Regions from separate parts of the Homo sapiens genome. Here region 1 is linked to region 2. The links come from fine-mapping of genetic effects on gene expression. A gene starts in region 2. The other region holds a variant in brackets. All regions are shown on one strand. Distances are between the middles of the regions.

What was found. PIP is the estimated chance that this variant, and not a neighbour inherited with it, causes the effect. A credible set is the group of variants that fine-mapping cannot tell apart.
Region 1: its variant is the best candidate, but not a certain one, in a credible set for the expression of MIDEAS in fibroblasts (GTEx, PIP 0.66).

Annotation. Positions count from the first base shown.
Region 1 is chr14:73,667,979-73,673,352 of GRCh38, forward strand. DNAL1 (dynein axonemal light chain 1) reads left to right here. Exons shown (of 8, transcript NM_031427.4): 5 at 3,564-3,619. Among named protein-coding and RNA genes, the nearest start is that of DNAL1, 26 kb to the left of the region's middle. RefSeq lists an enhancer at 1-120 and a cis regulatory region at 36. The variant C/T (reference allele first, on the strand shown) is at 3,049.
Region 2 is chr14:73,757,546-73,762,919 of GRCh38, forward strand. It overlaps MIDEAS (mitotic deacetylase associated SANT domain protein), which reads right to left and starts at 2,758. Exons shown (of 13, transcript NM_001367710.1): 1 at 2,218-2,758. MIR4505 (microRNA 4505) reads left to right here and starts at 1,202; the gene lies at 1,202-1,274. RefSeq lists enhancers at 726-775, 2,836-3,165, 4,081-4,603, 4,604-5,125, 4,727-5,026 and silencers at 1,426-1,535, 1,896-2,045, 2,176-2,415.

The DNA.
Region 1 (5,374 bases), 90 kb before region 2:
TCCTATTACTCTTCCTTCATTCTCTCAGCTTATGCGGTCCTGCCTCAAAGCCTTTGTACTTGAAGTTCTCTTGCGTGTAAATGTTCTTCCTCCAGATATGTGCATGGTGAACTCCCTTACTAACTTCCTTTGGGTCTTTCCCTAACATCATCTCCTATCAAAAAATCAACTGTTCCCAACCTCCTGATATTTCATTCCTTTTACCTGCTTATTTCTTTTCTCCTTCACATTTTTCACTATCTAATATACTTACTTATTTTGTTTATCTGCCAAATGTTAGCTCCTTGATAGCAGGAATTTTTGTCTGTATTATTTGCTGTAATATTGCAAGTGCTTATTGCTGTTCCTGGTGTATAGTAGATGGTCAGTAACTTATGTGTTGAGTGAATAAGTTATCGAATAAGCGTTTAATTCTTCATGAAATAGAAAAAAGAAAATGGTGTTTTTTCATATCAAGAAGCTTTAAAGAATAATTATGTGATTTTCTTAAATATTTAATTTTCATAAATTTATAGTTATATGGGATATATTAATTTGCTAGGTTGCTGTAACAAAGTCCCACAGATTGGGTGGCTTAAACAATAGAAATTTTCTCACAGTTCTGGAGGGTAAAAGTCCTGTAGTTGTGATCAAGATGTCAGTGTGGTTGATCTCTTCTGAGGCCGCTCTGCTTGGCTTGTAGATGGCCGTCTTCTCCCTCTGTCTCTTTTTTTTTTGAGACAGAGCCTTGCTCTATCACCCAGGCTAGGGTGCAATGGCACGATCTTGGCTCACTGCAACCTCCGCCTCCCAGGTTCAAGCAATTCTCCTGCCTCAGCTTTCCGAGTAGCTGGGATTACAGGGACACACCACCATGCCCAGCTAATTTTTTTATTTTTAGTAGAGACAGGGTTTCGCCATGTTGGCCAGGCTGGTCTCAAACTCCTGGCCTCAAGTGATCCACCCGCCTCGGCCTCCCAAAGTGATGGGATTACAGGCGTGAGCCTCTACACCTGGCCCCTCCCTCTCTCTGTACATGTTCTTTTCTCTGTGTCTATGTCCAAATTGCCTCTTGTTACAAGGATACCGATCATGTTGGATTAGGGCCCATCCAAATGACCTCATTTTACCTTAATTACCCCTTTATTTTTTTTTAAGTGTCCAAATGGCCCAATTAATTACCTTTTTCTTTTTTTCTTTTAGACAGGGTCTCACTCTGTTACCCAGGCTAGAGTGTAGTGGTGCAAACTCCTGTGCTGAAACCATCCTCCTGCCTCAGCCTCCCTGAGTAGCTAGGCTTACAGGCATGTGCCACCATGCCCAGCTAAACTTTTTTTTGAGAGGGAATCTTGCTCTGTCACCAGGCTAGAGTGCAGTGGCGCAATCTTGGCTCACTGTGACCTCCGCCTCCCGGGTTCAAGCGATTCTCCTGCCTCAGCCTCCCAAGTAGCTGGGATTACAGGCATGCGCCACCATGCCCAGCTAATTTTTGTATTTTTAGTAGAGATGGGGTTTCACCATGTTGGCCAGGATGGTCTCGATCTTCTGACCTCGTGATCCACCCGCCTCGGCCTCCCAAAGTGCTGGGATTACAGGCATGAGCCACCACGCCCGGTCTAAATTTTTTATTTTTTATTTTTTATTTTTATTTCTGTAAAGGCAGAGTCTTTCTATGTTGCCCAGGCTGGTCTCGAACTTCTGGCATCAAATGATACTCCCACTTCACCTTCTCAAAGTGCTGGGATAATTGGCATAAGCTACAATGCCTGGCCCAATTACCTCTTTACAGGCTCTGTCTCCAAATGCAGTCCTATTCTGATACTAGGGATTAGGATTTAAAGATATGAATTTTCCGGGGGACACAGTTCAGCCCATAACATGGGGTCTTGCTTCAACAGTTAAATCATTTTGTGTGAATTAGACCACTCTTAAAATACCTTGCTCTAAAAGCTCATTGTTTCTTGTAAGACAAATTAATTTATTAAATAAATTGAAGTTATATATGCCTGATTCTCACACACACACATACACACACACACACACATTCACACACACATCTGTATTGTGTACTTACCATGGGTTACACATTTCACTGAATATTTTAGGTAATTATCTCATTTCATCCTTAAATTCCTATAAGATAGAAATTATATTTCCCCATTTTATATATGGGAAAATAGATTCAAAGAGGTTTGTTTGCTTCCCTAGAGAGTTGGGATTGAAACTCAGTTAATTGGATTTGAGTTCTTACCATTCAATTATGGATGTTATAGAACAATGTCATCCAACAGAACTGTCAGCACTGTCCCAATACAGTTGCTACTAGCTACATATAGTTATTAAGCACTATGAAATGTGGCTAATGTGACTGAGAAACTGAATTTTAAATTGTAATTAATTTTAATTAAAGAGCCACATGTGGCTAGTGACCACCATATTAGACAAAGAAGTTATAGATGTTTAAGTTATGAAAATTAAATATAGTAATAAGCAAAAGTAATCACAGTAGTTTCTTGGAACAGAAATGAGGTTTCCTGGGTGTTTCAAAAAGAAATTTATTTTTAATTTGGAAAAATAATATATGCACCTGGTTTTATTCAAATGGTTCAAAAGAGGTTACAATGGGAAATGTCTACTTCTGTTAGTTCCTCCCCAAAGACAACCACGGTTTCTACTTTCTTTTTTCTCTTCCAGAAATAGCCTATAGATATACAAATAGAAATAACCTTTAAAAAATAAAGATAGGCATTTTATTTTATTTTTTATTTTTTATTTATTTTTATTATTATTTTTTTTTGAGATGGATTCTCGCTCTGTCGCCCAGGCTGGAGTGCAGTGGCGAGATCTCGGCTCACTGCAAGCTCCGCCTCCTGAATTCACACCATTCTCCTGCCTCAGCCTCCCGAGTAGCTGGGACTACAGGTGCCCACCACCACACCCAGCTAATTTTTTGTATTTTTAGTAGAGACGGGGTTTCACCGTGTTAGCCAGGATGGTCTCGATCTCCTGACCTCGTGATCCGCCCGCCTCAGCCTCCCAAAGTGCTGGGATTACAGGTGTGAGCCACCA[C/T]GCCCGGCCAGGCATTTTATTTTTTAACCAAATCACAGTCTAATTATTTAAAAACTTGAAAGAAAATGATTTTTTAAATACCAAATTTATTTTTTTTCACTTCTGATCCTTCATGGAGTGAGATGGACAATATATAAATATATGTTCTTATTTTCTAGTATGAGTTCTTGTAAGAGATTTGAAATATATATGCTCCCAAACTCAAAATATTCTCTACTGCTATTTTATCCTGTAATATTTTTATTAGCCAGCAATTTAAGACCATGTGTTCCAGATAGCTAACCATTTTTAAATTTAATATTGACATGTTATGAAATTATACCTGTACTGTTTACTTTAGATGATAGGTCAATGTTATTTCTACTTGATTACCCATTTTTGTTAACACAACCTTTCTTACTCATTGTATAAGGATATCTATTATATAAAACTTATTAAAGCTTTATTATTCTAGATTTACAACAATTGTGTAATATGATTCTAGTAAACAAAAAAATGTTTTCTTTTCACTACAGAAAACTTGAGGATATTATCTTTAGGAAGAAACAACATAAAGAACTTAAATGGACTGGTAGGTTGTTATTTATTATTATTTTATTTATTTAATTTGCACACATCTATGAATAATTTCTTGGATAAATTCCTTGAAATGGAATTACTAGGTCAAAAGGTATCAGTTTCTTTTAAGGCTTTTGTGACATATTCTCAAGTTACCCTTCAATAGGTTTGCAACAACCTGTACTCCCACCAGTAACGTGTGAGGTTTCCCAATTTCCCATACCAGCCTTGGGCATTTAAAATTTTTTTGACATGTCTTATTTCTATATTTATTGGCCATTTGAATTTCCTTCCAAAGAATGTGAGATGGAACAATAACGTAAAACTAGGCAATTTCAGGAAAGATGAAGTGAATATTTCTTGTATCTGTTCCCGAAAAGACAATACTTTTTGATGTTTATTGTTAAATAATTCATAAACATACTGAAATTTTGTATGGCCCTGGCTGCTTTTCCCCTCCCAATAAATCTAGCTTGTGCTTCGTAAGAGGCAGTGGGGAGCTGAAATTGCAGTGGTTTCCAACAGTAACCTCCCAAGACAAAACAGGCTAACATGACCATCCTGCCCAGTACAGAAACAGTGGTAACCCTGAATAGGAGTCATGTTCAGAGGTGCAATTTTGGAATTATCTCAAATTTGTTAGCCAAACTCTGAATTATATTTCCACCTCTGTGATTCTATTTACCTGCATAAAGAGGTACTGATGAGTTTATAAAATGCTGGAAATTCTTAAGGGTCAGGCTGAGAGCAGTGGCTCACGCCTGTAATCCCAGCACTTTGGGAGGCCGAGGCAGGCAGATCACGAGGTCAGGAGATGGAGACCATCCTGGCTACCACGGTGAAACCCTATCTCTATTAAAAAAATACAAAAAAACTAGCTGGGTGTGGTGGCGGGCGCCTGTAGTCCCAGCTACTTGGGAGGCTGAGGCAGGAGAATGGCATGAACCCAGGAGGCGGAGGTTGCAGTGAGCTGAGATTGCGCCACTGCACTCCAGCCTGGGTGACAGAGCGAGACTCTGTCTCAAAAAAAAAAAAAAAAAAAGAAATTCTTAAGGGTCAGATTCTGGGATTAAATAAAGGAAGTTTCCTAACCCAAAATAATAACCATCAGATGAATTATTTGTTTTCTAATTGGATATGGTGAGTAAAATTCTTAATGATCTGTAAAAATTTGATTTTTTTTTTTTTTGAGACGGAGTCTTGCCCTGTCACCCAGGCTAGGGTGCAGTGACATAATATCAGCTCACTGCAACCTCCGCCTCCCGGGTTCATGCCATTCTCCTGCCTCAGCCTCCCGAGTAGCTGGGACTACAGGCGCCCACCACCACACCTGGCTAATTTTTTTGTATTTTTTTAATAGAGATGGGGTTTCACCGTAGTAGCCAGGATGGTCTCGATCTCCTGACCTCATGATCCGCCTGCCTCGGCCTCCCAAAGTGCTGGGATTACAGGCGTGAGCCACCACACCTGGGCAAAATTTGATATTTGTGATGTTCTAAATAAATTGGTAAGTTTAAGGATATTTAGCCTTCTGTCCAGTTTCTGAGCCTTAGATGGAAAAATTTCAAATATAGAGACATTGTGCATAAAGCGTAAAATATTAAATTGTAATACAGAAATTCAGAATTATTATATTTCAGGCTAAATGTAACTTTGAGTTATCTATAAAGAAATAGTTTGCAGATAAATGTACTCCAGAACTTTTAGTGTCAATATACTTGATGTTCCCCCAGGTATTTATAGAATCCCTTATAGAATCCCAAATTCT
Region 2 (5,374 bases):
TGGCATTTGAAACAGGATTAGAAGGATAAGCTGGAAACCCCCAGCCACTTTGTGGCTGTCCCCACCCCAGCATGAGCAAAGTTTTCTTCTGGGAGACCCAAATGCAAGAGAGGGGCTCTCAACCTGAAGATTCCTGGACTGGGCCCATTCCCCTTCCCCTCTTCTGTCAGAGGTCTTGGCACCCCTGGGCAGCCTTTCTCTGGGGACTCTAGACACAGGAGGCCCTCAGCTGAATCCACAACTGCATGTTGTCTTTTCTTGTGTTCCACTTATTGAAAGCAGCAGCACACAGGGTCAAACACTGGGGCTATTTTAAAATCCCACATGTAAAAATTAAATTCTCATCCCCATGGGCACTCCAGGGCGCTCTTTCCTGGGGCGGGGTGAGGAGCTGACAGAGTCACGGGAGTGGGGGTTCTGCTGGCACTTGGAGAGGCCACACTGGCAGTGGCTAGGCTGTTCCAGAGCAAGCTGGCAAGCTGTATGACCTGGGGGCATCCTCCAGGTTCTTCACCCCCTTGTCCCCCCGGGAGCTACACGGACCAGAGTAACCAGCCAGAGGCCAATCCAATTAGAGTGGAGACTGGACCAGGGCCATGCAACGAGATGGTTTATCACAGTAATTGAATGTTTACGCTCCTATTATTCACTGTCCAGAGCAGTTGGAAAAGGAAGACCTACGAATTCTCAACCCGGGAAGGCTTCTCCTTTTCCCTGGGTTCTGAAGCCACTTAACACCCAAGGAAAGGGTGCATTTCTCTGATCCAAAAGGGGCGTGTGCCACACCTTTGGTGGGAGGCTCTAGAGCAAGACAGGTGGTTTCTCCCCTCAGCTGAGGCCCCCTAGGGAGGACTGGCTTCTCGGTCCACCTTCACTAGGCCTTCAGTCTCAACCCTGAAGCTACAGGAACAAGAAGATCCCAGATCACCTGGCCAGGCTCCCCCTGCTGGAGCAAGCCAGACATCCCCTCCCTCCCCCAGCCGCAGCTGCCAACAGGGATCCCCTGCATACGCGGGCCACCGGGGCCTCCGTGGCCAGCCTCTCTTCCCCCATCCCACCGCCCCCCGCGCGAGGCTCCACAGGCTGGCACACAGGTCCCACGTGGGATGGTGGAAACAGGAAGCAGCCACCGTAGTTGTGACCAACAAAGTTTTAAATGGGGCATATAACTTCCCCTTTCATCTTCTCACCAGCTCTCGCTGGAGGCTGGGCTGGGACGGACACCCGGCCTCCACTTTCTGTGGCAGGTACCTCCTCCATGTCGGCCCGCCTTGGGGCTGAAGCCTGAAGGCCCCAGGGCACACGAAGTTCCCCTTCCTCCCCTAGACCTTTACCCAGAGGCCTTGGGGGCAACCTGACACACATGGTCCTGCATGTGCGACTTGGGAGGCGACGTGACCAGCTCCACCAAGCCGGCCATATGCAGGGCCCGGCCGAATCCCGGGTTTCGGCGCTGCCGCCAGGCACCAGGGAACACAGCTCCCCGCGAGGCACCGCGCGGGCTGGGAGGGCTGCGGCGGCGCGGGCGTGCGGGGGCGCGCGGGAGGATGACAGGTCTGAGGTGCGCCCGCCCGCGCGAAGCGCTCCAGCCTAGGCCTCTGCTGACTGCATTTGCCCCAGTTCCCCAACGCCCCTGCACCTCTGTCCCCCAAACTCCTGGCGTGGACGCCGCGTCCAGGCCCACTTTCCCGTGCACGCTGGCAGGGGAAGGGGCTCCCGCGCCAAGTTCCCTCAGCTGGCTAGCCCCTCGCCGCGCCTTCCGGGCCTGGGCTCCGTCACGTCAGCCGGTCCCCACGGACACCACGTTTCTCTCCAGCGGAGGAGGAGCAGCCGGATTCCCGAGCCGCCGCGGGCCGCCGGGTGGGGAGGGCTTTCCTGGCGGGGCCGCGCCCGGGTGGGCGGGGGCCGCGCGCAAGCTGCGTAGCTGCACAAACACCGCGGGGCTGCGCTGCACACGCAGCTGCGGGCCGAGGGCGCGGACCGCGGGGGAGGGGGCGGCGGGCTGCAGGCGGCCCCCGCACGGCCACACGCGCCCGCTCCACCGCCGCCCAGGCCGCAGAAGTTCGAGCGCAGCGGCCCCCGCGGCCCCCTCTCCGGGCCGCGCCTGCAGAGCTGCAACCCGCCGTGCGAGCAGCCACAGCTCGCGCGCCGCCTGGGGTCCCCTCGCCGGCCCCGCCGCGTGCAGGCCTCGGCCGCCGGCCAGGCAGCCCCACTTACCCAGCTCTTGCCCGGGCTCCGGGCTCCGGGCTCGGCTGTCCCCCTTCCGCCGCGGGTCGCCGCCTTCGGTCGCCTCCGGGACTCCAGCCGCCTGCACGCACTCCCGATTTTAAAAACAAACAGGCGCCGTCGCCTCCCCGCGGCGCTCGCGGGGCTTCCGCCAGCCCGCGCCTCCCGAGGCTGAGAAGTTTGCTGGCAGGGCCCGGGCGGGACGCGCGGGCTGTCACCCCCCGCTTGCGATGCAGGAGCCTCGGCGCGCCCCGCACCCGTGCCGTCCGCCTCGCGAGCGCTCTGCCTCCCTCCGTGTCACCCCCAGTCCTGCGATGCAGTGTCAGGATTGCACGGCTCTGACTCATCGGTTGAGCTCACAGCTTGAAAAAAAAAAAAAGAGAGAGGGCGAGAGGCAACAGCGGAGGAGGAGGACTCTGGCGTGCTACAAAGGATTGCACAACTCGAGGCTGGGAGCGCGGAGCGCCCAGCGGCCGGCCGGCGCGCGCGGCACCGCGGCGAGCAGGAACCAGCTCTACCACTTCATCAGCACAACTGTCTCGGGGCGGCCTCAGCCAGCAGGCCCGGCGCCGCCCACTTCCTGCGACCAAATAAGGCCGGGGAAGGCGTCCTTAAACCTCAGGCGGCGGCCGGGGCTGGGGATTTCCAGCAGACCTCACCTCCACTCACGAGTCGGTCGCCGTCCCCATCCCCCGCCCAGGCTGGCGCCCCCGATGGCTTTGCTGGCGGGCCACGCTGCTAGTTCCTTTCACACCAAGGTCAGGAGGAGACGGTGACGAAATGTTTGGAAACCCATTGAGCCTGCCAGGAAAGTGTGTGTGTGATGCTGGGGAAGGCACAAGTCGCTTTCTTCCACAAAGAAACTCTCTCTGGTTTTGGATACGGTAAATCATGCACAATCCTCTCCATGGCATTTTATTAACAGACTCTCCGAGTTTCACTTTCTGGCTCAAAAGCGTCCTGGTGCGTGTAAAGGTTATTGAGAAACTGGCCTCAGTCCCTAGAAAGGACCCACCATCTCCATCGCTTAGGTGAGGAAAATCTCCTGGATTTAAATCTAGCAACTCAGGCCAGAGTTGAGCGGCTTTTCACTCCATACTCACATTTTCCCCTGTCTTCCCTAAATATCCCCCTGATCAATTCTCAGGTCCAGGCCTTGATGCCTCCTTGCCTGACTGGTGGGAAGATGGAAAACATTTTTGCAGCTCAAGAGGTTGGTTCTGGCCCCCACATTCAATGGGGCTCTAGGGCCAGGGGAAAGTTCAGGGGAGTGTGTCCTATTCTTCCTTCCAAGTTTTTTGGTGGTGGTGCAGTGGTGGTGGTGGCGGCGGCGGTGGTGGCGGTGGCTGTTTTTCAAGGAGATGGGTCACAAGGAGATTTTCCTTTGAAAGAAAAACCACCGAAGAATACCATGTGTCCTGGCAGCCACTTTTCAAAACACTGTGGCCAGACCTGAGAACCAGGTGCATCCCTCACTTTCTCAGGGAGAAGAGGAGGGAGGGGCAGCAGAATATGATTCTCACACACTCACTGGGCCTACAGGGCCAGGGTGGGGTGTGGAGGACACAGGCAAAACTTGGATCTTCTGCCCAGAAATCCTGCCAAACCTGCACTTGCTTCTAAGGGGGCATGGCTTTCCTGTCCTCTTCCACCTCTTTGCTGGCTGGAGCACCTGCGTACATGTACACCTGGAAGTCACACCTCCCCAAGAGGAGAAGGGCTTATTTGCACCATGTTATGATAGATATGTCAAAATAAGGAACACTTAAAACAATCTTATCTACAAAATACAGGTAATTATGCCACAGGACTGGACCAGAGGACCTCTTGAGATCCCTTCCAGTTCAAGATCCATGATTCTGTGATTACAGTAAGTGAATAGAGGAGCTAGGGAAACCACCTTCTACAAAAAAAAGCCCGGGCTCCCCGATTTAGCATCTGTGATGACAGTATTGTTCCTGGCAGCTCTCAGAGCACTTCTCCATACAGTCTCCTGAAGAGCCCTGCATGTGAGTTTTATCTCTCTCAATCTGTGGATGTACTGAGGTTCAGAGAGGTTAAGTGAATTGCACCAGGTCACAGGGCAAGCCAAGCATCTGTGACCTCTCTGCTCCTCCCCCAGAGGAAGGCAGTGAGCAATTGAGGAACTGCAGTGCTCAGGCCTGCAGACCCCCAAGCAGAGGCCAGACTCTCAGGGCTCCTGGCAAAGGATCAGGGTAGAGCCTTTTTACTTTTTTCATTTGCCTGATTTCTTCCCTCCCACTGACAACACATCCAAGTGAGGGAAGCAAAAGCAAAGCCATTTGGTCTCCAGTGCCCACTGCTGCCAAGTTCCTCTGCAGACCTGTGGCCATCCTCACCTCCCCTGAGAGCCCAGCCCCTGCAGTTGGCCTTAGGCCAGCCCAGAGTGAGCCCCTAAGAGCTTGTGCAGACCAGCCCAGGGATGTTCCCAACCAACCAGAAAACCTGACTGGGAAGCACATTGCTAGAAGAGCCTGCCATCATGGAGCCAGGGCCCAGCCTTCAGGGAACAGGTGAAAGCCACTCCAAAGGAGTGGCCCAGGAAGCAGCATACATAGTGGAGGCAGGTGGCAGGGGAAACAGAGAAGTCAGTGGCCCTGAAGGAGCCTTGCTCACCTTGGAGCGGCACCGCCCTTCACTACAGCTAAACTTCCAAATTCAGGCCACCTAAGAAAGGAGAGAGAAGAAAAGGGGCACACATGTGTGCAGGGGAGGAGGGCTCAAGACTATACCAAATAGCCCCCCCTTGGCAGGAGAAGTCTACCTCAAAAAGGCGGGCAGATGAGGCTATGTAAAGAAAGCTGCAGCGCTTCCGGGAAAGCCCTGGAGGTCAGTTTTGCTGCAGATATGACGGTGCAGAATCACTGACGTGTGAAGTGAAAGTTTTGGTTTTAGAAGCTCCAGCCCCTGCTACAAGTCTCTGGGGCAACCAAGAAGGTTGACCTTTCAGGGAAATGGGGAGGTGTTCCAGAGACCTTATCCACAGAGTTGGATTTTCTCCACCCTCAACCCTCTTTACAAACTGCACGAAAAAGGAGTACAGAGCTCCAGTTACCAGGGAGTGTGACAAGAGAGAAACACTCCAGGAAATAAAGCACCCTAGACAGAATCCTAAACTCTGATTCCC